Linked DNA regions of Homo sapiens. The protein of the gene in region 1 interacts with the protein of each later gene in a pairwise test. Each region holds a gene or a part of one and is shown in the gene's direction. Other genes may lie near its edges.

What was found.
Region 2: the proteins of TRIM14 (region 1) and RAD51D interact in binary tests that used the Homo sapiens proteins (3 or more experiments, as listed by UniProt).
Region 3: the proteins of TRIM14 (region 1) and CCDC125 interact in binary tests that used the Homo sapiens proteins (3 or more experiments, as listed by UniProt).
Region 4: the proteins of TRIM14 (region 1) and SLF2 interact in binary tests that used the Homo sapiens proteins (3 or more experiments, as listed by UniProt).

The regions. Positions count from the first base shown.
Region 1 is NC_000009.12:98,109,195-98,116,230, reverse strand, and holds part of TRIM14 (tripartite motif-containing protein 14), read left to right. Parts: intron 1-4,533; exon of another isoform or gene 4,534-6,105; coding exon of another isoform or gene 6,106-6,162; intron 6,163-6,246; coding exon 6,247-6,342; intron 6,343-7,036.
Region 2 is NC_000017.11:35,091,704-35,095,879, reverse strand, and holds the end of RAD51D (DNA repair protein RAD51 homolog 4), read left to right. Parts: 3' UTR 1-3,659; downstream 3,660-4,176. UniProt on the Homo sapiens protein: Involved in the homologous recombination repair (HRR) pathway of double-stranded DNA breaks arising during DNA replication or induced by DNA-damaging agents. Bind to single-stranded DNA (ssDNA) and has DNA-dependent ATPase activity.
Region 3 is NC_000005.10:69,280,794-69,287,829, reverse strand, and holds part of CCDC125 (coiled-coil domain-containing protein 125), read left to right. Parts: intron 1-2,362; coding exon 2,363-2,493; intron 2,494-4,795; coding exon 4,796-5,101; 3' UTR 5,102-6,691; coding exon of another isoform or gene 6,692-6,723; 3' UTR 6,724-7,036. UniProt on the Homo sapiens protein: May be involved in the regulation of cell migration.
Region 4 is NC_000010.11:100,957,954-100,964,989, forward strand, and holds part of SLF2 (SMC5-SMC6 complex localization factor protein 2), read left to right. Parts: intron 1-1,474; coding exon 1,475-1,543; coding exon of another isoform or gene 1,544-1,618; exon of another isoform or gene 1,619-1,635; intron 1,636-3,923; coding exon 3,924-3,959; 3' UTR 3,960-7,036. UniProt on the Homo sapiens protein: Plays a role in the DNA damage response (DDR) pathway by regulating postreplication repair of UV-damaged DNA and genomic stability maintenance.

The DNA.
Region 1 (7,036 bases):
TCCCAGGTTCAAGTGATTCTCCCACTTCAGCTTCCTGAGTAGCTGGAACTACAGGTGTGCACCACCACTCCTGGCTAATTTTTGTATTTGTTGGTAGAGATGTGGCTTCACCATGTTGGCCAGGGTGGTCTTGAAAACTCCGACCTCAAGTGAACTGCCCACCTCAGTGTCCCAAAGTGCTGGGCCCCCTTTTATTGTATTTTATTTTATTCTTGTTAACATTTTTTAATAGAGGCGGGGTCTCACTATGTTGCCCAGGCTGGTTTCAAACTCCTGGACTCAAGTGATCCACCTACCTCAGCCTCCCAAAGTGCTGGGATTACAGACCTGAGCCACCAAGCCTGGCCCCCAAGGGTCTTCTTATGGGCTCTGTAAACTTGACTTCAGTTCCTGAAAGCAGTCTGATCATATATGAAGATATATCATTTCAGTCAAAGCCTTGGTAAAATTACCAGTGTCTCCAATGTGGTCTGTTATGAAAGAAAACATACTCTTATTGAACTTATGCAAATAACTATATTGTCATAAAATAAGAATACTCACAAATAGCCAGGTGCGGTGGCTCACGCCTGTAAACCCAGCACTTTGGGAGGCTGTGGTGGGCGGATCAGTTGAGGTCAGGAGTTGGAGATCAGCCTGGCCAACATGGTGAAACCCCATCTTTACTAAAAATACAAAAATTGTGCTGGGCTCAGTGGCTCACGCCTGTAATCCTAGCACTTTGGGAGGCCAAAGTGGGTGGATCACGAGGTCAGAAGTTCGAGACCAGTATGACCAACATGGTGAAACCTATCTCTACTAAGAATGCAAAAATTAGCTGGGCATGGTGGTGGGCACCTGTAATCCCAGCTACTCGGGAGGCTGAGGCAGGAGAACTGCTTGAACCCCACGAGGCAGAGGTTGCAGTGAGCCAAGATTGTGCCACTGCACTCCAGCCTGGGCAACAGAGAAAGACTCCACCTCAGAAAGAAAAATTAGCCAAGCGTGGTGGCATGTACCTGTAGTCCCAGCTACTCAGGAGGCTGAGGCAGGAAAATCGCTTGAACCTAGGAGGCAGAGGTTGCAGTGAGCCGAGATCATGCCACTGCACTCCAGCCTGGGTGACAGAGCAAGACTCTGTCTAAAAAAAAAAAATTAATTTAAAAATGAAAATAAAAAAAGTAAACACAAATAGTTTGCAAATTTTGGTGAAATCAGGTAGAGAGAAAGACAAATGTTTCAATTTTGCTCACAAAAGTATCTTTTATCCAGTTGCTGTGACAAAAGAAAAAATTTTCTTGACTGAAAAACAATATAAAAAGAATCAGCAATGTTTCAAATTTTAAAAATCATAAAAATCACTTTTATCCTCTATCAGTTTAGTCCCATGTAAATAATTCTTGCTCTGCTTGATGTTGGGTTAGCAGTCTTCATGAATGCCTCAGGTTTTTATTAGAGTTCTGGAAGCTTTTGCTTAATCCAATGGTAAGATCTCTGAAGTTACCAGAAACCTGTATTCAAGAGTACTTGTCAGGGTTTTTTTCCAAAAATTTCCTTAAAGATGAAGCAAATTTTGTAGCTGATTATAAACGACTTTTTTTAAAAGAATCAAAGTAAAATAAAAATTGTCGGCTGGGTGCGGTGGCTCACGCCTGTAATCCCAGCACTTTGGGAGGCTGAGGCGGGCCGATCACGAGGTCAGGAGATCGAGACCATGGTGAAACCCTGTCTCTACTAAAAATACAAAAAAATTAGCCAGGCGTGGTGGCGGGCACCTGTAGTCCCAGCTACTTGGGAGGCTGAGGCAGGAGAATGGCATGAACCCGGGAGGTGGAGCTTGCAGTGAGCCGAGATTACGCCACTGCACTCCAGCCTGGGCGACAGAATGAGACTCTGTCTCAAAAAAAAAACAAATTGTCTGTGGATGATAAAAGGCTTAGAATAGCCACGGTCAAAGATGAAATTGACTAGGATATGTGGTTATTTGTGTGGCACACACCAGTTTATCATAATAATTATGATAATGATATACTGATAACATATACCAAGACATATCAGACTTTTAGGAATCTCATACAATTTTGGAACACATTAATAATACGCTTTTATAAATATAACTCAAAGAAAGTTAAACATCATTTCTTATTTGACAATATTTCCCATATGACTTTGACATCCCAAATAAGCCTAATGTGTCTCTTTTGGACTTCCAGGGGTCCTGGTTATGCCCAAGTTAGCTTGGGTCAAAAAGACTTAATTTAATTTTGGGAAGTATCTCAAATATTAAAGGTTTAAAACACTTGATATAGAAATAAGAAAGGTTTAAAACACATGATCAAAATAGAATCACAGGTCACTACAAAATAATGGTAATTACTTTAGCCAAAATGATTATTCAAAGATTTCAAAAAGCAAAAACCACTCTGATAGAGGAGATTCAGTTCTCAATCAAGAGACCTAATAAAGACAGCATGGGACAAACTCTCCCCAGTTACCTTTTCTTTGCCATTTATGCAAAAGTAAATACATCTTTTACCGTCTCTTATTAATTCTACATTACATTTTTATTCAAAGGAGAAAAACAAGTTTTACTTTTAGGCCAGGCACAGTGGCTCATGCCTGTAATCCTAGCCCTTTGGGAGGCCAAGGCAGGCAGATCACTTGAGCTCAGGAGTTCAAAACCAGCCTGAGCAACATGGTGAAACCCTGTCTCTACAAAAGATACAAAAATTAGCTGCGTGTGGTGGTGTGTGCCTATAGTCCCAGCTACTTGGGGGGCTGAGGCAGGAGGATTGCTTGAGCCTGGGAGGTCAAGGCTGCAGTGAGCCAAGATTGCACCACTGAACTTCATCTTGGGTGACAAAGTGAGACCCTGTCTCAAAAAAAGAAAAAAATTACTTAGGTGTTAGTATATTATCTATCATCCAATTTCAGTCAGCTTTGACTACACAAGATAAGATAATCGATAATCTCTCACCATTTTCTATTAAAGAGCAGATCAATGCTCTGATAAAACCTGGTTGTTCCAACACAGGAGCCCAGACTCTGGCCTTACATGAGTGTGCTTTTGATATTAATACTTAAGTTTTAGAAAAACTTATAAAAAATTCCTTCTTTTTTTTTTTTTTTTTTTTTTTTGAGATGGAGTTTCGCTCTTGTTGCCCAGGCTGGAGTGCAGTGGCATGAACTGCCTCACTGCAACCTCCACCTCCCAGGTACAAGCAATTTTCCTGCCTTAGCCTCCCGAGTAGCTAGGACTACAGGTGCACAACACCATGCCCAGTTAATTTTTATATTTTTAGTAGAGACGGGGTTTCACCATGTTAGCCAGGCTGGTCTCAAATTCCTGACCTCAGGTGATCCACCTGTCTCGGCCTCCTAAAGTGGTGGGATTACAGCCATGAACCACCGCGCCTGGCCATTTCCTTCTGATTTTTTTTTTTTTTTTTTTTTTGAGATTGAGTCTTGCTCTGTCACTCAGGCTGGAGTGCAATGGCGCAATCTCTGCTCACTGCAACCTCCACCTCCCAGATTCAAGTGATCTCCTGCCTCAGCCTCCTGAGTAGCTGTGATTACAGGCGTGCACCACCACACCTGGCTAATTTTTGTATTTTTAGTAGAGACGGGGTTTCTCCATGTTGGTCAGGCTGGTCTCAAACTCCTGACTTCGTGATCTGCCTGCCTCGGCCTCCCAAAGTTCTGGGATTACAGGCAGGAGCCACCACACCCTGCCATTTCCTTCTCATTTTAACCAATTTGATCACATACAAAATGTCTTTTGTGAGATTAATCTTCCACAGACCTTCTAGAATTTGCTTAAATCTTCAGTTTTGTCCTATACTTCCTTTTTATTTTGGCATTCTACCTTAGGACAAAAATTTACTTCCCTTTTCCCATTATCATTTTGACTACACAAAGTTCTCTCTCATGCAAAAGAAAAATTACTCTCTTTCAACAGTCTTTACCAAAAACACATCTGACTTTATACACTCTGTAAATAGAACTGTTTCTTTTATATCAAGTAGTTTTAATCACATATGTTAACTACAATTTTCACTCTTAGTAACCCAAATTTCCAGTGAAAAACCTAGGAAGTAAGTAATTTTTAGCTGTTTTCTACCAGCATTTGTAGATGAAAATAATTTCATAATTTCTAGAAAGATGGCTCCTCAATTTTTTTTTGTTAACAGATCGAAATATATTTAGCTTTTCTATACCATATAAATGATTCAGACGTTTTATAATGACCTATTACTTCATTTAACATAACATGATATTAAGTTACTGAAAACAATTTTTGTTTGTTTGTTTTTGAGACGGAGTTTCACTCTTGTTGCCCTGGTTGGAGTGCAATGGTGTGATCTTGGCTCACTGCAACCTCTGCCTCCTGGGTTCAAGTGATTCTCCTGCCTCAGCCTCCCGAGTAGCTGGGATTACAGGCATGCGCCACCATGCCTGGCTAATTTTGTATTTGTAGTAGAGACGGGGTTTCTCCACGTTGGTCAGGCTGTCTCGAACCCCTGACCTCAGGTTATCTGCCTGCCTTGGCCTCCCAAAGTGCTGGGATTACAGGCGTTAGCCACCGTGTCCAGCCTGAAAACAACTTTTAAAACTATGAAATGTTCATTTATAAACTTTGATCTCATTTACATTTATTTAATTTTTTCATTCTTAACAATTTTGCCTGAATAGTTCATTAAACAAAGCTAGCCACCATCAATTTATTTCTTTGCTAATCATTTCTATAGCCTGTGAATGTCATCCTCCCAAGCAGCTGGAACTTGAGGCATTCTCCACCATGCCCAGCCAGGTTTTTTGTTTTGTTTTGTTTGTTGTTTTTTGGTAAAAATGGGGTCTAGCTATGTTGCTCAGGCTGGTCTCAAACTCCTGGCCTTAAGTGATCCTCCCACCTCAGCCTCCTGAGTAGCTGGGATTACAGGTGCAAGCCACCATGCTCAGCTCTTGAATTTCATTACGTAAGGTTGACACTATGAATATTCATTTTGCATCCACATACCCACTTTCCTATCCATTCACCCATTATTCATTCATCCATCCATCATTCACCAAACATCTATTCAGCATATATTTTGGGCCATGAGTCAAAGAACAGATCAGATCCTTCCCTGACCTGGAAGAGTTCTCTGGCTGGTTGGGAAAGAAGCTAGCAGCACCTGATAATTGTTTTTTTTTGGGGGGGGGGACAGGGTCTCACTCTGTTGCCCAGGCTGGAGTGCAGTGGCATAGTGGCATGATCATGGCTCACTGCAACCTCCTGGGCTTAGGTGACCCGCCCCTGACCTCAGCCTCCCAAGTAGTTAGGACTACAGGTGCATGCCACCATGCCCAGCTAATTTTATTTTATTTTATTTTATTTTATTTTATTTTATTTTATTTTATTTTTTGTGGTAGAGGCAGAGTCTCACTATGTTGCCCAGGCTGGTCTCGAACTCCTTGGGCTCAAGTGATCCTCCTACCTCAGCCTCCCAAAGTGTTGGGATTACAGACATGAGCCACCATGCCTGACCAGCCCCTGATAATTCTGTTCAATTCAGCAAACACTTCTGGTCACACCCTGCTCCCTGTGGGGAGTGAGAACGAAGCGAGCCTGCCCTCAAGAAGCTCCTAGTCAATGGGGCAGCCAGATCTGGGCCCAGCAGCTGAGTGTAAGGCCAGCTGTAAGAAAGGCTAAGATGGAGACGAGATCACACCCTTGGGGAAGGAGAGTGCAGAGCAGACTTTGGGGAAAAAAGCAATTTCAAAAAGCAGAGATATGGAAGGTGGGAAGAGCAGGAAGCATGAACCCCACTGACCTCTCACGTAGTCCAGGGCCAGAGGGTCACAGACTCCCTGGAATGTATGTTTCATGAGGGCAGCACCTGGAACAGGGCCCAGCACATAATAGGTGCTCAGTTAATACTCCATAAGTAGATGTTCTTTCCCAGACCCCAAGCTGTTTGCCTTAAAGTCCCACTTGAAAGGCTGGAAAAGCAAGTCACAGGCAAGACTTGTCCTAGATAAAGTAAAGTGTGAGGAAGGGGTGCAAATCAAGATTAGAGGCATACCTGATGTGGACCTCCGAGGATCAGAGATGTCCTAGTCCCAGCTCATCCACCAACTTGCCATATGACTTTGGGCAAGTTACCTCACCTTCAGATGCCTCCATTGGAAAAGAATACAAGGGTAAGAGGAGGTGACCCCTGTGGGGGGCCTGTTATTTGGAAAGTGACAGTATTACGACTTTTTTCCTAACTCCCTCCTGTACAGAAACTCAGCCAAGAATGTTTAAAGCAGCTGGCAATCAAGAAGCAGCAGCACATTGACAACATAACCCAGATAGAAGATGCCACCGAGAAGCTCAAGGCAAGTGGACATTTCTTCCTCATACCCATGGAAAGACCCACATTTCCCCCCAGACAAAAGGGACCCCCAATATGGAGCCAATGAAAATAAAAACCAACTGCGAAGGGGCAGATGGTGGGGCCTGGAGCTTCTATAATTCAGGGTTCTTTAGAAAAAGAACACAAAATTACAGACAAAATTAGGTGCAAGACCATGAAGGGGCTCTGCAAGTGAGGGGCCCTGAGCTCCGGTTTCCTTTGCTTTGTGGCAAATCTCTGGTTCCTTAGTGTCATCTGCCAGTCTCTTGGAGGAATTAGCCCATTATCCCAAATTGCCTTAAACAAAGCAAAACACAGCTTAAGGAATATGCAGATATCTCTTTAATTCCACTGCCATGCTGAAAGAAAGCAAGTAGGGTAAGATCTGTTCCACAAATAGGTACTTTCTTCACTCTCCTTTCATAATGATGTTTGAGTGGATTCTCTGTGGATTTTGAATGGGAACTTGAGGCTGATGTTATTCTAAGTAACCATTTTGACATGACAAAGTTGTTGTGTTTTTAGGGCCTCAGGGGCTGGTCATTTCCCCTTGCATCCTCCGTTGCTCCCTCCCCCTTTCATCCTGTTGCTCCCTCCCCCTTTCATCCTCTGTTGCTCCCTCCTCCCCTTCATCCTCTGTTGCTCCCTCCTCGCAGTGAGGGCTGGGGTGGGAGGCC
Region 2 (4,176 bases), on another chromosome or scaffold:
GGTTTTCAGTTAGTTTGCATACTAAGGCTGCAGTTTGTTAAGGGCCCAAGTAAAGCCTCCTCAGGTCAATTTTTTTTTTCTTTTTGAGATGGAGTCTTGCTCTTGCTCAGGCTGGAGTGCAGTGGCGTGATCTCAGCTCACTGCACCTCTGCCTCCCGGGTTCAAGTGATTCTCCTGCCTCAGCCTCCTGAGTAGCTGGGACTACGACTACAGGCGCCTGCCACTATGTCCGGCTAATTTTTTGTATTTTTAGTAGAGATGGGGTTTCATCATGTTGGCCATGGCTGGTCTCGAACTCCTGACCTCAGATGATCTGCCTGCCTCAGCCTCCCAAAGAACTGGGATTATAGGCATGACCCACTGTGACTAGCCCTCAGGCCAAATTTAGCTTTTGTTTGTTTGTTTGAGACGGAGTCTCTGTCACCTAGGCTGGAGTGCAGTGGCATGATCTTGGCTCACTGCAACCTCTGCTTCCTGGGTTCAAGCAATTCTGCCGCAGCCTCCCGAGTAGCTGGGATTACAAGCATGCGCCCCCATCCCCGGCTCTTTTTGTATTTTTAGTAGAGATGGGGTTTCACCATGTTGGCCAGACTGGTCTCAAACTCCTGACCTCAGGTGATTCACCTGCCTCTGCCTCCCAAAGTGCCTGGATTACAGGCGTGAGACACCACACCCGACCCCAAATTTAATTTAACAAAGGACTAACTCAGAACTAACTTCCAACCAAAGCTGACTCACCTCAAATCTCATTGGTGCAGAATTGCTTCATACACCCATGTGTAATACAGTAACTGGCAAGAAAAAGGGACTGCTGTGATTGACTCAAACCAACTAGGAAATAGCCCTGGAGCTGAGGCTGGGGACAGGCTTTCCTGAAGCACATGCTGGAGCCACTGAAAGAAAAATGGGAGTTCTCCTTTCTACTAGAAAGGAGAGTGTGTGGATGAACTGGATGCTGGGTGGGCAGCCTCTCACTAGTACTTACGGTAGTACCAAAGACGAGTTAATCAAGGCTCTATTATGTATCCTTAGGCCCTTGATGCATGTCTCATTATGACCTTAGGACAGCCTTGTGGCAGAGGGAATGATTCCATTTAATAGACAGTAAATGGGATCTCAGTGAGGTTAAGGACATAAAGCTAATAAGTGGCAGCACGGGAATCCAGACACATGTCTGCCTGATACCAAACCCATTTTTTCCCATCTGCACGCTGCCTTCTGCTGTAAATATGTAAATGTTTCCACAAAATTCTTTTTCATACTTTGCCCTGATAGCAGCAGGGGCTGCACATCCCAACCTCTTTTCAGCTTAGCTCACCATAAAAAGCGGGATCAGAGATCTACTTCTCAGCTCTTTCTGATTTCCCCCAGGGAAGTTACAAAAGAATGACAAAAACTTGGAGAAGGCAGATATCATTAGTATTAAAGAGAACTGGAGGTTTAGGGGGAAATAAAGCTGAATAAAAAACAGCAGGGCTGGCTGAGCGTGGTGGCTCACGCCTGTCATCTCAGCGCTCTGGGAGGCTGAGGTGGGTGGATCATTTGAAATCAGAAGTTCGAGACCAGCTTGGCCAACATGGCGAAACCCCATTTCTACTAAAAATACAAAAATTAGCCGGGCGTGGTGGCGGGTGCCTGTAGTTCCAGCTACTCAGAAGGCTGAGGCAGGAGAATCGCTTGAACCCGGGTGGTGGAAGTTGCAGTGAGCCAAGATCACACTACTGCACTCCAGTCTGGGTGACGGAACAAGACTCCATCTCAAAAAAACAAAACAAAACAGGGCCTATGCATCCCTGAGATGTGAAGCAGGGGGAGATAAGGGATTTAGATGTATATCCTACTAGGTTTTTGCTGTGTTCTGCCATGCAGTTGTCTGGGCAGGATTTATTTATATTTTAATTTATTTCAGGGGCCATGCTAATCATCTTTGTATTGTTCCAATTTTAGTGTATGTGCTGCTGAAGCAAGCACTGGGTAAGGTTTAAACTGTCTAGTTCTGTGTGCTGGGGTTTGGCATTGGAGAAGGCTCTGTGATGCATAGACCTTAAATTAGAGTTAGGTATATTATTAATCCAAAGTGATCCTGAATGCTTTCTATCATTTTTTTCTTGTCCTATTGCACTGGCTAAACTGACTTTTAGTACTACACAGAATAGAAGCAACAATAACAATCATCCTTGTCTTGTTCCTAACTTTAGTGGACTATTTACAATATTTTACTGAGTTAGATGCCTTAGGTTCCACGTAGCTGCTCTTTATGAAAGACCTCACTGGGTTACCCTTCAGTCTTGGAGGAGTCTGGGTATTGGCCATGACATTTGCCATGAATGATGGAGTTCTCTCTGCCAGGTCCTCATGCCCTGGAGCTGTACGGCTGCACTTCAGCTGCTGCACATTTGACTTTTTGAGTAGCCCTTGAATCTCTGCTCTTCCTTGGCCTCTCTATAGTTTTTGGTATAATAGCCTCAGCTTAAGTTTGAGTTTTGTAGGAAAACAATGGGCCTGTGCTGACAAAGATACAAAGTCAAGGAACAGGATTTTTTATATCTCAACTAACTTGGTCCTAGCTTTGACATTTACTTGCCATATAACAATGGATGAATAACAGTCTCTTTAAGCCTTAGTTTCATCCACCGTGAAATGGGAAAAATAATATCTGTTTCATAGAGTTGTTTTAGGATCATGTAACTTATGTAAAACACTGAATAGTTTTCCAGGCATGATATAGGCACTCAATCTCATATTATGAATAAGCTTATGATGCATGGGGGATACTGATGACAGCTTTCTTCTGTCCAGGCAGGCCCAGCTACATGGTGGTATGACCAGTGCAGTCACACAGCCCCATGCTTAGCAGGGCTCTGCACTTAGTTTAATGCTCTGCTGTTGCCATCTTGAAGTTCTTAATTTTTAAACAAGCATCCCATATTTTGCACTGTTTCTTGCAAACAGTGTAGCCAGTTCTGTCTCCAGGAATGGATCCAGCACTAGTACTGGCCCTTCTCTTTGGGAAACATCCTTCCATTGATTTCTTAGGGAGTAAATCCCTTGAAGAGTAACCTCCCATAGAAAAATTAGGGTTAGCACCCTGTGTATGTTTATCTCTAACTGTTCCATTCTCAGTAACCTACACATCCTCTCTCATTAAAAAAACAAAACAAAACAAAAAACACTTTATATTTTACAGAAGCTATTAGATCCAGAGAGGTTGGTAGGGGTGCTGGTGAAATGGAATGGTGATTTGGGATTTTGGAATCAGGAAAAAGATCTAAGTTCAAAACCCTGCTAGTCCCTTTCTGGCCGAGTTACTTGGACAAGGTAATGTCTCTGTCCTACTGGTAAAGTGTATGTTGCAGGGGAATTACATTCTTTGTTGGTAAAATATATGCCTCAGGGGAATTAAACAGATAATTTATGTAAAGTGCCTTTCACAGAGAGTCTGGCACATAGTAGGTGGTCGGTCACTATTAATTCTTCCAGCTCTTGCCAGAAATAACTAAAATCAGGGCACTAGGACTTCCAAGCCGTGCTGCTACTAATAAAAGAAATAATATGATTTATTTTTTCACAACTGTTTGGGGAAAGGCCTGTGCTTCATAAATATGCGTTGGAAAGTACTTAGCAAATGAGTAGAAATAATAAAAATATGTCCAAGTAAACAGCTCCTATAAATATGTCACTTGGTAGACAAATTAGTGTTTTATCACTACTAAATACTATTGCTCGCTGAAAAGGATTTCGGATTGCTTGCACAATGGGTACATTATTGAATGCCTCTGTGGAAGGGCATGATAAAGATGAAAAATAGTGACGGTGGTAATGCCTAAGGTGGAGAAAGGAGGAGCGTGGATAAACGCAGCTCGGAGGCCTCTGTGCTGCAGTGATATGCACATTATTTAGCAGCATTCCAATGATTTGCTTGTAATATGGACCAGAGGGCCCAGAAAAAAATGATTTCCACAGGATGTCATGAATCCAAACTTCAATTATTGGATCCAATCAGTGGATTAAGTGCACCCCCTTTCAGAACTGAACCTTCAGGTTGTAAACTAAGTTTATGAAAGGACATCCCCAGGTCTCACCCCACCCTTGTTCTGGACCTATTAACTTTTTTTCTGTTTGTTTGTTTTTTGTTTTGAGATGGAGCCTTGCTCTGTCACCCAGGCTGGAGTGCAG
Region 3 (7,036 bases), on another chromosome or scaffold:
TGGGAGGCTGAGGCAGGAGGATTGCTTGAGCTCAGGAGTTTGAGACCAGGCTGGGCAACATAGGGAGACCCTGTCTCTATTAAAAAAAAAAAAATAGCCAAGTGTGGTGGTAGATACCTGTGGTCTCAGCTACTAGGGAGGCTGAAGTGGGAGGATCGCTTGAGCCTGGGAGGCTGAGGCTGCAGTGAGTCATGATCCCACCACTGCAGTCCAGCCTGGGTGATGGAGCAAGACCCTGTCTCAAAAAAAAAAAACCACCAAAAACTGATGGCCGGGTGCAGTGGCACGCCTGTAATCTCAGGACTTTGGGAGGCTGAGGTGGGTGGATCACTTGAGGTCGGGAATTTGAGACCAGCCTGACCAACATGGAGAAACCCTGTCTCTACTAAAAATACAAAATTGGCTGGGTGTGGTGGCACAAGCCTGTAATCCCAGCTACTCGGGAGGCTGAGGCAGGAGAAATGTTTGAACCCGGGAGGCAGAGGTTGTGGTGAGCCAAGATTGCGCTGTTGCACTCCAGCCTGGGCGACAAAAGCGAGACTCCATCTCAAAAAAAAAAAAAAAAATTGATTAATCTCGCACAGCTTTTATAAATCTATACAAGTTTGAGTAGTTCTTTCTCAGTTTCTCAGTGACAAGACTTTAATTCATTTTATTAGTATATTTCAGTAATCTTAAGAGGTACAGGGTGATACAGATTATTTTATGTTTAGTAACACTTAATATCAACTTTCTTTTTGATATGGCAGTTTAGACAAGTTTCCGGAAGTAGTTTATAGGCATACTTCTTTCTTTCTTTGTATTTTTGCTTTTGGGTTTTTTTTTTTTTTTTTTTATCTTAAACTCCTGGGCTTAAGCAATCCTCCAGACTACCAGCTTGAGCCATCACACCAAGCTATTTCTTTTTTTAGACTGAAAATAGGGACACAGATTCATCTACTCATCAAAGTGTCAGTTTCTCTGACTTCTGTTTGCCACAGCTCCTCGTGGAAGGGGTCAGGGCCGCCCTCGTCACTGTGGTCTGTCAGGATTGGTGGGAAGGGGATCTCCCCTCATCTGCTCTCAGTTTCCCACTAAACCACTTTTGGAGAATATTCCAAAAACATTCTTGAAATTTTCCTTGTACAATCTGAGATTTTATAACTTCTGCAAATTACTTTCCTTCAATGGATGAAGAAGGACATCAATGATGTCAGCACGTGAAATATTAAATATTATGCTAATACCTGAGCAGGGCCTTTGACAATTGTGGTATTTTTTGTTGTTGTCGTGATGGTGGTAAAATATATCTAAAGTTGGCCGGGCGCGGTGGCTCACGCCTGTAATCCCAGCATTTTGGGAGGCCAAGAGGGGGCGAATCATGAGGTCAGGAGATCGAGACCATCCTGGCTAACACAGTGAAACCCCATCTCTACTAAAAATACAAAAAAATTAGCCGGACGTGGTGGCGGGCGCCTGTAGTCCCAGCTACTCGGGAGGCTGAGGCAGGAGAATGGCGCGAACCCGGGAGGCGGAGCTTGCAGTGAGCCGAGATTGCGCCACTGCACTCCAGCCTGGGTGACAGAACAAGACTCCATCTAAAAAAAAAAAAAAATTATATATATATATATATATATATATATATATATATATATATATATAGTTTACCATTTGAACTGTTTTTAAGTGGTATTAAGTATATTCACATTGTAATGTAACCTTCATCACCATCCAGCTCCAGAACATTTTCATCTTTCTTTACAGAGACCCTGTCCCATGAAACAGTAACTCCTCACTTCCCCTTCTCCAGCCCGTGTGATTTATTATTTAATGGCACAGTTCCCTGAGAAGAAGGTAATGCTATTCTCATTTTAGAGATGAGGAAATCAAGCTGAGAAAAGTCACCCGAGGTCATACAGTTAGTAAGTGGCTGAATGAGGATTCAAGTCCAGGTCTTTGCTGTTCGGAAGCAGAGTTTGCATGGCTCAGAGGCCCCCTGTGGCCTGCAGACATGTTTTGTTAGGTTGGCTTAGTGTAGTCAAACAATAAGACTAGTGGCTGACATTTAGAATTGGAAGATGTCATGACAGATCTGCATTTCTGGCTGCTCTTGAAGACTGTGATGATCCAGTGACATGGACTGTGTTCTTGTGTGGCCTGTGTGTCAGCTGGCACAGAGGGGTGGCTGTGCCGCATGGCAGGGCGGCACTCTTGCTGCCTCTCACCTGCATTGCTCCTGGCTCTGAAGGCTGTGCTCTGCTCACTACATTCCACTGTGTGCTCCTGGACTCACTTGTCCTAGAGATCAAGTTACCTCTTTTGCTGGAAGTATATCAGTGAGGATATTTTAATGTCTCAGCTGGATTCTCATGTTCAATTTTAGGATTTCCATCACCAAGGAGTAAGAAGACCTTCGGGCAGAGACTGTTGGGTATGCTCCCTTCAGAAAACAGTTCTAAGAGGATGGAAGACCAGGACAGTCCTCAAGAGGTCCTTAAGATGCTCATAGATTTGGTTAGTGTCTTTGCTTTTTTTTGCAGGTTATGGTTAAGCCAAGCTTGTCCAACCCACGGTCCGTGGGGAGCATGCAGCCCAGAACAGCTTTGAATGTGGCCCAACACAAATTCGTAAACTTTCTTAAAACATTATGAGATCTTTTTGATATATATATATATTTTTTTAGTTCATCAGCTATCATTAGTGTTAGTGTATTTTTTTGTTTTGTTTGTTTTTTGGTTTTTTTGTTTGTTTGGTTTTTGAGACAGAGTCTCTGTCACCCAGGCTGGAGTGCAGCGGCGCGATCTCGGCTCACTGCAACCTCCACCTCCCGGGTTCAAGCAATTCTCCTGCCTCAGCCTCTAGAGTAGCTGGGACTGCAGGCGCCCACCACCACGCCTGGCTAATTTTGTGTGTGCGTTTTTAGTAGAGACAGGATTTCACCATGTTGGCCAGGCTGGTCTCAAACTCCTGACCTCAAGTGATCTGCCCACCTCGGCATCCCAAAGTGCTGGGATTACAGGCGTGACCCACCATGCCCAGCCAGTGTTAGTGTATTTTATGTGTGGCCCAAGACAATTCTTCTTCTTCCAGTGTGGCCCAGGGAAGCCAAAAGATTGGACACCCCTAGGTTAAGCTAATCTATTTGCTTCCTGTTAATTCAACTCTTTATCTCTCTAGACTTGCACTTGCCTTCTATGTCCTTTTCCCAGTTGGAGTACCAGACTCTACCTTCATGATCTTTATCTCCCTCAGCTCATCTTTTCTCGTCATTCATATTCTTTCTGTGCAGGTTTAAAGGCTCCATCTTGGAAAACAGGGGGCTCCTGTAGTTAACTCCAGCCAGCTTTGCCATCTACATTTATATATATACAGTTTGTGACAAGTCTGCCTGTTTATTGAGGCATTTTTAAAGTGTTCAAGGCATTTCCTCACACATTATATCCTTTACAGTCCTGCTACCCACATTCCACATGGAATGACTAAACTAAGACACTGAGACTCAGGTTATATGAACATACTTATCTCTAGACTGTTATATATTTGCATACAAATATATGAAAGCAATTTTATATACAAATAACTTCAACATTATTTTATAAATATGCACGTTGATATATTTTTTATATGTTGATATTATATACCTATATATACACACTTCATATAGATCTATATTTTCCCTTCATTTCCAGATGACTTGCAAAATTTTCAATGCTGTCTTCTGTTTTTTTTTTTAAAAAATTATTTTTAAAAAATAATCGTCGGGGCTGGGCACAGTGGCTCATGCCTGTAATCCCAGCACTTTGGGAAGCCGAGGCGGGTGGATCATGAGGTCAGGAGATCGAGACCATCCTGACTAACACGGTGAAACTGTCTCTACTAAAAATACAAAAAATTAGCCAGGTGTGGTGGCTGGCACCTGTAGTCCCTAGCTACATGGGAGGCTGAGACAGGAGAATGGTGTGAACCCAGGAGAGCGGAGCTTGCAGTGAGCCAAGATCATGCAACTGCACTCCAACCTGGGTGACAGAGCGAGACTCTGTCTCAAAAAAAAAAAAAAATTGTCAGCCTGGCATGGTGGCACACATCTGTAATTCCAGCACTTTGGGAGGCCGAGGCGAGTGGATCACTTGAGGCCAGGAGTTCGAGACCAGCCTACAAAAATTAGCAAGGTGTGGTGGTGCACGCCTATAGTCCCAGCTACTCTACTCGGGAGGGTGAGGCCCAAGAATCACTTGAGCCTGGGAGGCAGAGGCTGCAGTGAGCCAAGATGGCATCACTGCATTCCAGCCTGGGCAACAGAGCCAGACCCTGTCTTAAAAAAAAAAAGAATTGGCCGGGCACGGTGGCTCACGCCTGTAATCCCAGCACTTTGGGAGGCCAAGGTGGGCTGATCACAAGGTCAGGAGATTCAGACCATCCTGGCAAACACAGTGAAACCCCGTCTCTACTAAAAAATGCAAAAAATTAGCTGGGTGTGGTGGCGGGCACCTGTGGTCCCAGCTACTTGGGAGGCTGAGGCAGGAGAATAGTGTGAACCTGGGAGGCAGAGCTTGCAGTGAGTGGAGATAGTGCCACTGCACTCCAGCCTGGGTGACAGAGCCAGACTCCGTCTCAAAAAAAAAAAAAAAAAGATTCATGAATAACATGTAGTATAATGTTTGGGGATCAGGTGATACCTAATTTATTCATACTGATGGACAGATCAGTATGAATATTAGGGTTGAATAACTTGATAAAATAGTACAATACTCCTTTCTCTGAATATATTCTGTGATTTATTGACTAACTTGTACATGTTTAATTTCTGTGCATGCAGCTTAATGATAAAGAAGAAGCTTTGGCTCATCAAAGAAAAGTTAGCTACATGCTTGCTCGGGCATTGGAAGACAAAGACACTGCTTCAAACGAGAATAAAGAAAAAAATCCTATAAAAGAGAATTTCCCTTTCAACAACCCCTGGCGTAAGACTTCAGAATTCTCTGTTTTGGGTGATCCTATACATTCAAGTGTCTGCATTTTAAATTCTGTGGGCTGCATTTGTTCAATCCAGCACTCTCAAATAGATCCAAACTATAGAACTCTTAAAAGATCCCATTCTTTGCCATCAAGTATCATATTTTAAAGACAAGCCAGTTGAAATTGGAACTGAGAGTTGTTTATATCGAGATACTTTGAAAAATGATTTTGTAAATTTTGCTGCATCTTGAGAAGTTGTATGTTTCCTAGGTATTTCTAAATTTTAGGAGGTCACTTAAATCAAATATTTTCTACATTTTCTTTTTCTTCTTTTGAGATGGAGTCTTGCTCTGTCACCCAGGTTGGAGTGCAGTGGTGTGATCTCGGTTCACTGCAACCTCCGCCTCCCGGTTCAAGCAATTCTCCTGCCTCAGCCTCCCGAGTAACTCGGATTACAGGCATGTGCCACCACGCCCAGCTAATTTTTGTATTTTTAGTAGAGACGGGGTTTTACCATGTTAGCCAGGCTGATCTTGAACTCCTGACCTCAAGTGATCCGCCTGCCTTGGCCTCCGAAAGTGCTGGGATTACAGGCGTGAGCCACCACACCCAGCCTATTTTCTACATTTTCTACAAGAAATTAGTATTCTGTGTTGACATTTTATTTATAAATTACATTACTGTATTTATAAATTACATTACAGGCTGGGCATGGTGGCTCATGCTTATAAATCCCAGCACTTTGGGAGGCCAAGGTGGGTGGGTCACCTGAGGCTGGAGTTCAAGACCAGTCTGACCAACATGGAGAAACCCCATCTCTACTAAAAATACAAAAAATTAGCTAGGCCTAGTGGCGCATGCCTGTAATCCCAGCTACTTGGGAGGCTGAGGTAGGAGAATCGCTTGAACCTGGGAGGCGGGGGTTGTGGTAAGCCGAGACTGTGTCATTGCACTCCAGCCTGGGCGACAAGAGCGAAACTCTGTCTCAAAAAAAAAAAAAAACACATTACAGTGTTTGCCAACATCCTAAAACAAAAAATAATGATTTTTGGGAAAAACAAAAAATTATTTAACTATTTTGATTGACTATAGGGATCTTAGCTTGGCTAAATCAACAATATAGCAATGTATCTTAATGCTCTAAAAAGTAACAATACCTAGGACTGACTGAATGTTAATTTCTGGAATTCATTTATCTTGTTTTATTTGCCTTGTTCAGTATTTTTCATTTACCATATGAAGTTTAGAAATAACAATTTCCTTAAGTTAACTTCAATAAGACAGTTTTGATGGTGGGACCTTGGCAGAAGTATATTGAGTCAGTGCCGGCTGCGTTCATGGCTTCTTGTCAGGGTAGTAACATTTTGCAACCAAATCTGCACAGATTTGTAGCCAAGTCTACAAAGTGCTTAACAGCTCTTTTCATTGCATCCTGTGAGATGGTTGTGATGATCCAGGAAATGGGGTCTCAGGAATCTGAAGAAGCTGCCTGAGCCAAGGTGATTTCTAGGAGTTTTTTTGTTTGTGGTATGTGAATTGGGGTGTGTGGGGGTGGGGTGTGTGTGTAGACAGGGTCCCACTGTGTTGCTCAGGCTGGTGCCAAACTCCTGGCCTCAAGGGATCCTCCTGCCTCAGCCTCTCAAAGTGCTGGGATTACAGGCATAAACCACAACTCAATAAAAAAGTTTTTAAAAATTTACAAAGCTCATATTTGATCCAGCTAGGATTTTACCCTGTACATTTGTATTTCTTGTAGGCTGGCGCACAGATATCTTAAATGGCTACTAATTGCTGCTGTGTATGAAAACAAATGGCTATCAAGGCCGGGTGCAGTGGCTTACAGATCTGGTCTGAATCTCAAGTCCAGACCAGTCCAGAGTTCAAGACCAGCCTGGGCAACATGGTGAAACCCCATCTATACAAAAACTCGGCAAGGCATGGTGGCATGCACCTGTTGTCCCAGCTACTCAGGGGCTGAGGCAGGAGGATGGCATGAGCCCAGGAGCTTGAGGCTGCAGTGAGCTGTGATTGTGCCACTGCACTCCAGCCTGAGTGACAGAGTGAGACCCCCATCTCCAAAAGAAAAGGCTATCAATACAAA
Region 4 (7,036 bases), on another chromosome or scaffold:
AAGGAGAATCCCTTGAACCCAGGAGGCAGAGCTTGCAGTGAGCTGAGATCTCGACACTGCACTCCAGCCTGGGCGACAGAGCAAGACTCTGTCTCAAAAAATAATAATAATAAATAAAACAAAATAAAATAAACATACTTTTTTCTAAAGATTTTTTTATTCCAAGATTATCTTTTAGCTTTGATAATGTAATACAATGCTGATTCTTTTTGCCTCTTGTCTTTGGATAGTCATTGAATGTGAAGCCTCAGCTTTGTAACTTAATATCTTACATTAATTAGCTGCAAAGGTTAGTCATTTGAACAATGCCCATTCAGATTTAACATATGTATTTATTTTAGTAAATTTAAGTTAAATACAAAAATAAGCAACTAATGAAGTTATCAGATTTCTGATTTTCAAATACATGTAGGGGATAGCTCTTTCCCCAAGAGTAGAACTCTAGTTTCAGAAGCACATTCTTTTGAGCATTCATTGACCAGAATTGCTGGCCTGTAGAACTTGGTAGTGGCTACTACTGACAGCCATGCTAAAAGGGGACCACCCAAGTTTTATGTTTCTTAAAGACAAGGGCTTGGCACAGATTGTTGCCAGTGCTTCTCTTACTTAAAGTGGAAAGCGACACAGTGGTCTGTGGAAATTGCTTCAAGGGATGGTCCTGCTGAAATAGATGAGTTGCCTGCCTCTCCAAAAGCCTCTATTATAGAAAAGTTGGTGATTGTTTTGGAGAAATTTGAACTGTAGATGAAGAAAAAAGCATAGATTGTAGTTTACTTTATAAATTTAAAGCTGCTATAAAATTCCTGACTTGTTGAAAACATGTTTCTCAAGCAGTTATGTTCAATAGCTAATTGAGAATCTCTAGAGTGATAGAGTTTGGGTTTTGTGTTACAGTTTCAGTTGTGCACAGACACTTGCTAAACCTCCAAATGTAGGAAAATACGAGGTATTTAAAGGGGATTCGTAGTACTTGGGCACAAGCATGGAGAGGAGTAACAGTGAATTTTGGATCTTCTAATAATGTGGAGAGGGACAAATAAACGTTTTTTTTATGGCTTTGATCCTTTCAAAGGGAAGCTGGGAAGGGAAGGCACAGAACAGCCAAAGCCTTGGGCCCTGTTGACACAGACCACCCTTCAGCTTCTCTATCTGGTTGTTCAAAAGCCAGCGAGTTAAAGTTAAGTTCCTTTGAAGGCAGAGAATGTGTTTTTGGGGATGATCTTCAATAACAGGAAAATTAAATCATAAGCATTCAATAGTTTAGATTATGATGATAAAGGGAGTCTTATTAATTTCTATGATTTGAAATCTCCTTCAAAAGATGAGTAGTTTATTTTCTCTTTGTTGACAGAAATCAAATTGAGTTGTTGAGTGTGGGCCTGTTGCAGCTGTCAGATATTTTGTGTAGTGTTAAGCTGATTGTAGGTGAGAATGTTTTAATCTGATCCCTTTTCCTGTTTTTGATATTTTTAAGGTGAAAGACTTGGTCGCCAGGATACATGGAAAATGGCAGGAAATAATCCAGAACTGTCGGCCTACTCAGGTGTCATTTTGTTATACAATTTCATGTATTCTTAATAGTTTTGCTGAATGGCACTCTTCATACTGTTTGAAATAAAATAGGGTATAACAGTGCACTTGCTTCTAGTTATCTTAAGATAAACTGAAAACGCCAGTATAATACATGGTTTGTAATTTTTTTAGTTTTCGTTTGCTTTATATTCATTAATTTATTTCCAGAAGTGGTTGAGCCCATTTAAAAATATTGCATTGCATCAAATGGAGGTTATTCAATTAAGAGCATTTTTAAGACAGATCTATTGAGATAGAATTCACATACCATAGATTTTACCCACTTAACGTGTACAGTGGTTTTTATTACATTGACAGAGTGAATAACATCACCATAGTCTAATTTTAGAACATTTTCATCACCCCAAAAAGAAATCCCATACCCATTAGCAGTCATTCATTCCCCTTTCCTCTACTACCTTGGTTCCCCTCCTGACTCCTCCCAAATCCTAGGCAAACACTAATCTACTTTCTGTCCCTATACATTTCCCTATTCTGGACATCGGTAAATGAGATATACTATGTAATCTTTTGTAATTGGCTGTTTTCAGTTAATATAATAATAAGTGAATCCATGTTATAGCATGTACATCCCTTCTATTGCCAAATAATTTTCCACTGTATGGATATGTCACATTTATTTATCTACTTATCAGACATTTGTATTGTTTTCACATTCTGGCTATTACAAATAATATTTCCATGAACATTTGTATGCAAGTTTTTATGTGAATATGTGTTCTCAAATGAAACATTTGAAAAGGAAGTCAAATTGCTGGGCCATATGGTAATTCTATGTTAAGTGTTTTAAGAAACTACCAGACTGTTTTCCAAAGTGACTGCATCATTTTATATTCCCACCAGAATGTCTGAGGTTTCTAATTTCTCCATATTCTCACCAACACTTGTTTTTACTAAAGCCATAGTAGGGAGTAGGGAAGTAGAATCTCATTGTGGTTTTAGTTTGCATTTCCCTAATGATTAATGGTGTTAAACATCTTCTCATATGCCTATTGGTCATTTGTATAGCTTTTTTGCAGAAATGTCTATTCAGATCCTTTGCCCATTTTTTTCATCCCATACTTCATTTCAAAAAGCCTATTTTTGAATATAGTTATTTGTCTTTTTATTATTGAGTTGTATGTTCTGGATACAAATCCCTTATTAGAGATATAATTTGTAAATATTTTCTTCCATTCTGTGTGTTGCCTTTCCTTTATTTTTATTTATTATGTATATATTTTTGACACTTTTTTTTGATGTTATATCTAAGGAGTCTTTGCCTAAGAGGGACATTTTTTTTAACACCTGCTAGTAAGTGTGCCAGCCTGCTTGTTTACAGAGTAACTGGCATAGGATTGTCTAAAATGACGCTTCTCAAATTTTAATGTACATAGGAATCAACTAGGAACTTGGTGAAATATGGATTCTGACTCATAGGTCTGGAGTGAGAACTGAGATATTCTGTACTTCTTTTTTTTTTTTTTTTTTTTTTTTTTTTTGAGACGGAGTCTTGCTCTGTCACCCAGCCTGGAGTGCAGTGGTGCAATCTCGGCTCACTGCAAGCTCTGCCTCCTGGGTTCACGCCATTCTCCTGCCTCAGCCTCCTCAGTAGCTGGGATTACAGGCGCCTGCCACCACACCTGGCTAATTTTTTTGTATTTTTTAGTAGAGACAGGTTTCACCGTGTTAGCCAGGATGGTCTGGATCTCCTGACCTCGTGATCCGCCCGCCTCGGCCTGCCAGAGTGCTGGGATTACAGGCATGAGCCACCGCGCCTGGCTGATATTCTGTAGTTCTAGCAAGTTATCAGATTGATGCCAATGCTGCTGCTTCAGGGACTAAACTTTGAGTAGCCAGGGCCTAGAAGTTGCTTATATTTTATATCAAAATAATAGGAACACTGAATGTTAAGTAGATAAAGCAATCTCTCTATTTTAAGTCTTTGAGAAATCTTATATTTATGTTTTGTTGTTTTTGTATTTGTTTCTAACCTTAATAGATTTTCTTTTAATGCTGGTCATGTACTGATGTGGTATTAAAACAGAAAATAATTTAATAGCAAAACTATACTAATCAGCTTAACATTATTTAATCTGCTTAACTAAGCCCCTCCATGTGTGCAGTGGTGAGAAAAACATCCTGCACTTATTTTTTACTGTTTTTTGTTGTTTGACTACTGAATGTGAAATTTGAATCTGATTACCATAAATTTTCAGAGAAGTCAATATAAAGATTTTATTACTTGTCTTATCAAAGCCCATTGTCTGATGATTAGTAGTTTTATAAGGATTAATTCATAATATGATTAAATTTTGCTTTACCCTCTTTTTTCTCCTTCCCTTTTTTAGGGGCAGCTTCATGACTTCTGGGTACCAGATTCTTAATAGGAGTTGCAGCAGCAAAAATATGAACCAAGAGAAATTCAATAAGAGCCTTTCATAGAGGAGTAGAAAGGATTATTACAGAATCCAATGAATGCCAAGAAAATGTACAGCAAATGTGCCACTTGAATATCTAGTATGAAGCTGGTAATGAAGAAATTGCCATTTCTGAAGCAGATATGAAATATGATCTGCTTAATTGTTAAGGCAACTGACCTTTCAAAAGTGCAGAGTCTTATTAAAAGAGGGGAGGGGTAGAAGCAGAATAATAGTCATATGTCTAACCTGCCCCAGTTAACTCCTCTTGTTAAATTATAAGCCAGTTATCTTTTTTAGATAGTATTTTTGTCACTTGGATAATCACAGGAAATATATAAGAAAAGAGCTTGGACTAACTTGAGAAGTTGGACATGGAAAGCAAGACCAAGTTCCAGTTGGGTTTAATTTTCCCTCTTGGTTATTTTCGGACACAAAGGGAATGCTTAAAACTGAGTTTAGTAATAAAAAGCATAAATCTCTTCTGTAACTTTTATAAACCACAGGGAGGTTTCAATCCATGCATTTTCCTTCATTACTCAAGATTATAAATCTGTTTTTAAAATACATCTAAACAAACAGTTGAGAAACAAAAGTTTGGCATGTTGTCAGATCCCCTTAAGAGGAAGAGGTTAAGCTGTAAAGTAGTGGCCCTGTTTTGATGCCAGAACATTCATATGCTGTTTGTTCTGGATTTCTTTTAAATGCATGTATTTTAAATACTGGTTAAATCTTAGAATCTTGGCTATATCTTAGAATTCTGGCTCTTGGTAACCATATTACAGAAGTCTATATTGTAAAAGCCTAAAGATCTGGACAAGTTTCCAACAACCTTGTTTCCATGAGTATATAATTTTGGCAGACACCTGAATTCTTTGGGACACTGTGTCTGTGTATGTGTGTGTGTGTGTGTGTGTGTGTGTGCGCTTGTATCTTGAAGTTGTTGCACTTCAAAACCACAGCTGCTGTAAATTCTTAAACACTGGAGAGCCATCCTTTGGTTTAAATGGTAGAGGGTTAGTGGAAGTGCACACGTTGTTTTTAGCCCAGGGGTAGTAACAAACTCTTACTAGCCAACTAGAAAATTATTTTGTTGACGAGATGTCCCTTTTAGGAGGGTTTGTTTCCTGAAAGAATGCCAACTTTTTTTGTTGTTCTTTCAGTATTGGCTTGAGTGACCTGTTCTCCTGAGTGCTCTAGTGTCTCCAGTTGTGGGGGGGAAAGATGATGGAGGGGAACAGAAACTGGACTTGATGTTTGCGGTTTGAGAGGCAAGAAAATAAAATAACTTTCTACCTCTAAATTGAGGCTTAGGAGTAAAAAGCATTTTGTCCTAAATTTATCATTTAAAATAGCATCAGTAACTTTTGAGCTCATGTCAATCAAGCATTGGCAGTCAGAGATTTTATAGGGAAGACTAAGTAAATCCAGTTTCCAAGAACCTAAACTGATTGAGGCTCCAAGAGTCAGACCAACAAAAGTTTTATTCTGTGTTGTTTACTGGTAAGAATATTATTATCTTGATACTACCTCTCAAGGGTATTGTTACAAAATGCCACTTATGGTTAAAGAGATAGATACAAAGAGTTCTATTTGACAGAAGCTTGAAACTCTGGCATCTATCTGCCCAACGATGGGGGCTTTCGTTCTGTAATTTAATCCTTTGTAGATACATTATTTGTGTGTAATTTTATACGTGTTCATATTTTTCTCATTTTGCATTGTGTAAAGTGTACAAAATCTCAAAGTATAAAATACTGCTTATATTGCTTGTAATTTACAGTGTGTAAATATTTTCTAATTGTGTACATTGATGGGGGGGACAAGTGGGTTATTCAGGTTTTTTTTTAATGACCCTTTTGTATTGCAGTTTCAACAGATAACTGTCCATCAAATTTAAAACCACTTTGATACATTTTTATTTAACAGTTCCAATAAGAAAAAAATCTCTATTTTTAATTATATTTCTCCTTTAGAAAAAAAATACTTCATGGTCCCTCTAAAATAAATGGCCAGACCTCAGTTTAGGCCCTTGTATTTATGACTCTGGTAGAGGTCTTCAGACTCCAGGTCATAGTCCAGTCAGTATTTGCATTTGGGTTCTCATGAAAACTTTGTGACTCTCTTTTAGCACAAGTAGCCCATGGTTTTTCTTCCAAATCAAGTATTTTACTTCTCCCTTGAGTCCCCATGCTTTGTCTCCCTCCTGCTGCTATTGCCCGGTGAATGGGATGGTAGAGAGGGAGAAATGTTCATTGCACAGAGAATGTCAGGCCACTTTGGGGACTTGGCAAACGAAGCTTGCACTGAGTGGTGGTGTGTTTGGCAATATTACTGTGCCAAAAATCACCTTGTCTAATTTTATGGATATGTATGGCAAACTTATTACCCTTCTTGCAAGCTGCACATTAAGGTACTTGTAAGTGTTTATGCTTTTGTGTGTAACTGTTTGCCTTTTCTAACTGCTTTTCTTGTTACTGAAAATATAATTCTACTAGTTTTATCACATTAAGAGGCTCTCCATGCACAAAATGCATTGATGTAGCCGTAAAGTAACAGCATTTGTACATTTTCTATCTCCTGATGGCAGTGGTGCCTTTGTCACCTTTTGGAAGGTTTGCATTTTGTTTCTGCTTTCAAGCGCAAATAGTAGCTTGCTTTCAGCTTCACAAAAATCTCCTCAAATGTAAAAGATACAAAATGGCGTGTTATCATCCAGGCTTAGTTGGAGTATTTGCATTTTTATTTTTATCAAAACAAATATAATTGGTGGGGACTGGCCAGTAATAATGTGTGGCGTCTTTAAGCCAAGAGTAATTTTTAAATTAAAAATGAAAATTTTAAGAGGTAGCCCATTAAACAAGCTACTGAGTTGGAGAATTAGGGGATGACTGTGGTGGTTTGTCGCTAAGGAGGCAACAGTAGGGTCCAGGCGGCGGGGCACGTAGAGCAGTTAGCATGATCCATGGTTATTCCTTACTCATGAACAGTGTCGGCGCACCTCATTATCTGTGCATTTGTTTTTCCTGGGCAGTCCTGTCAGC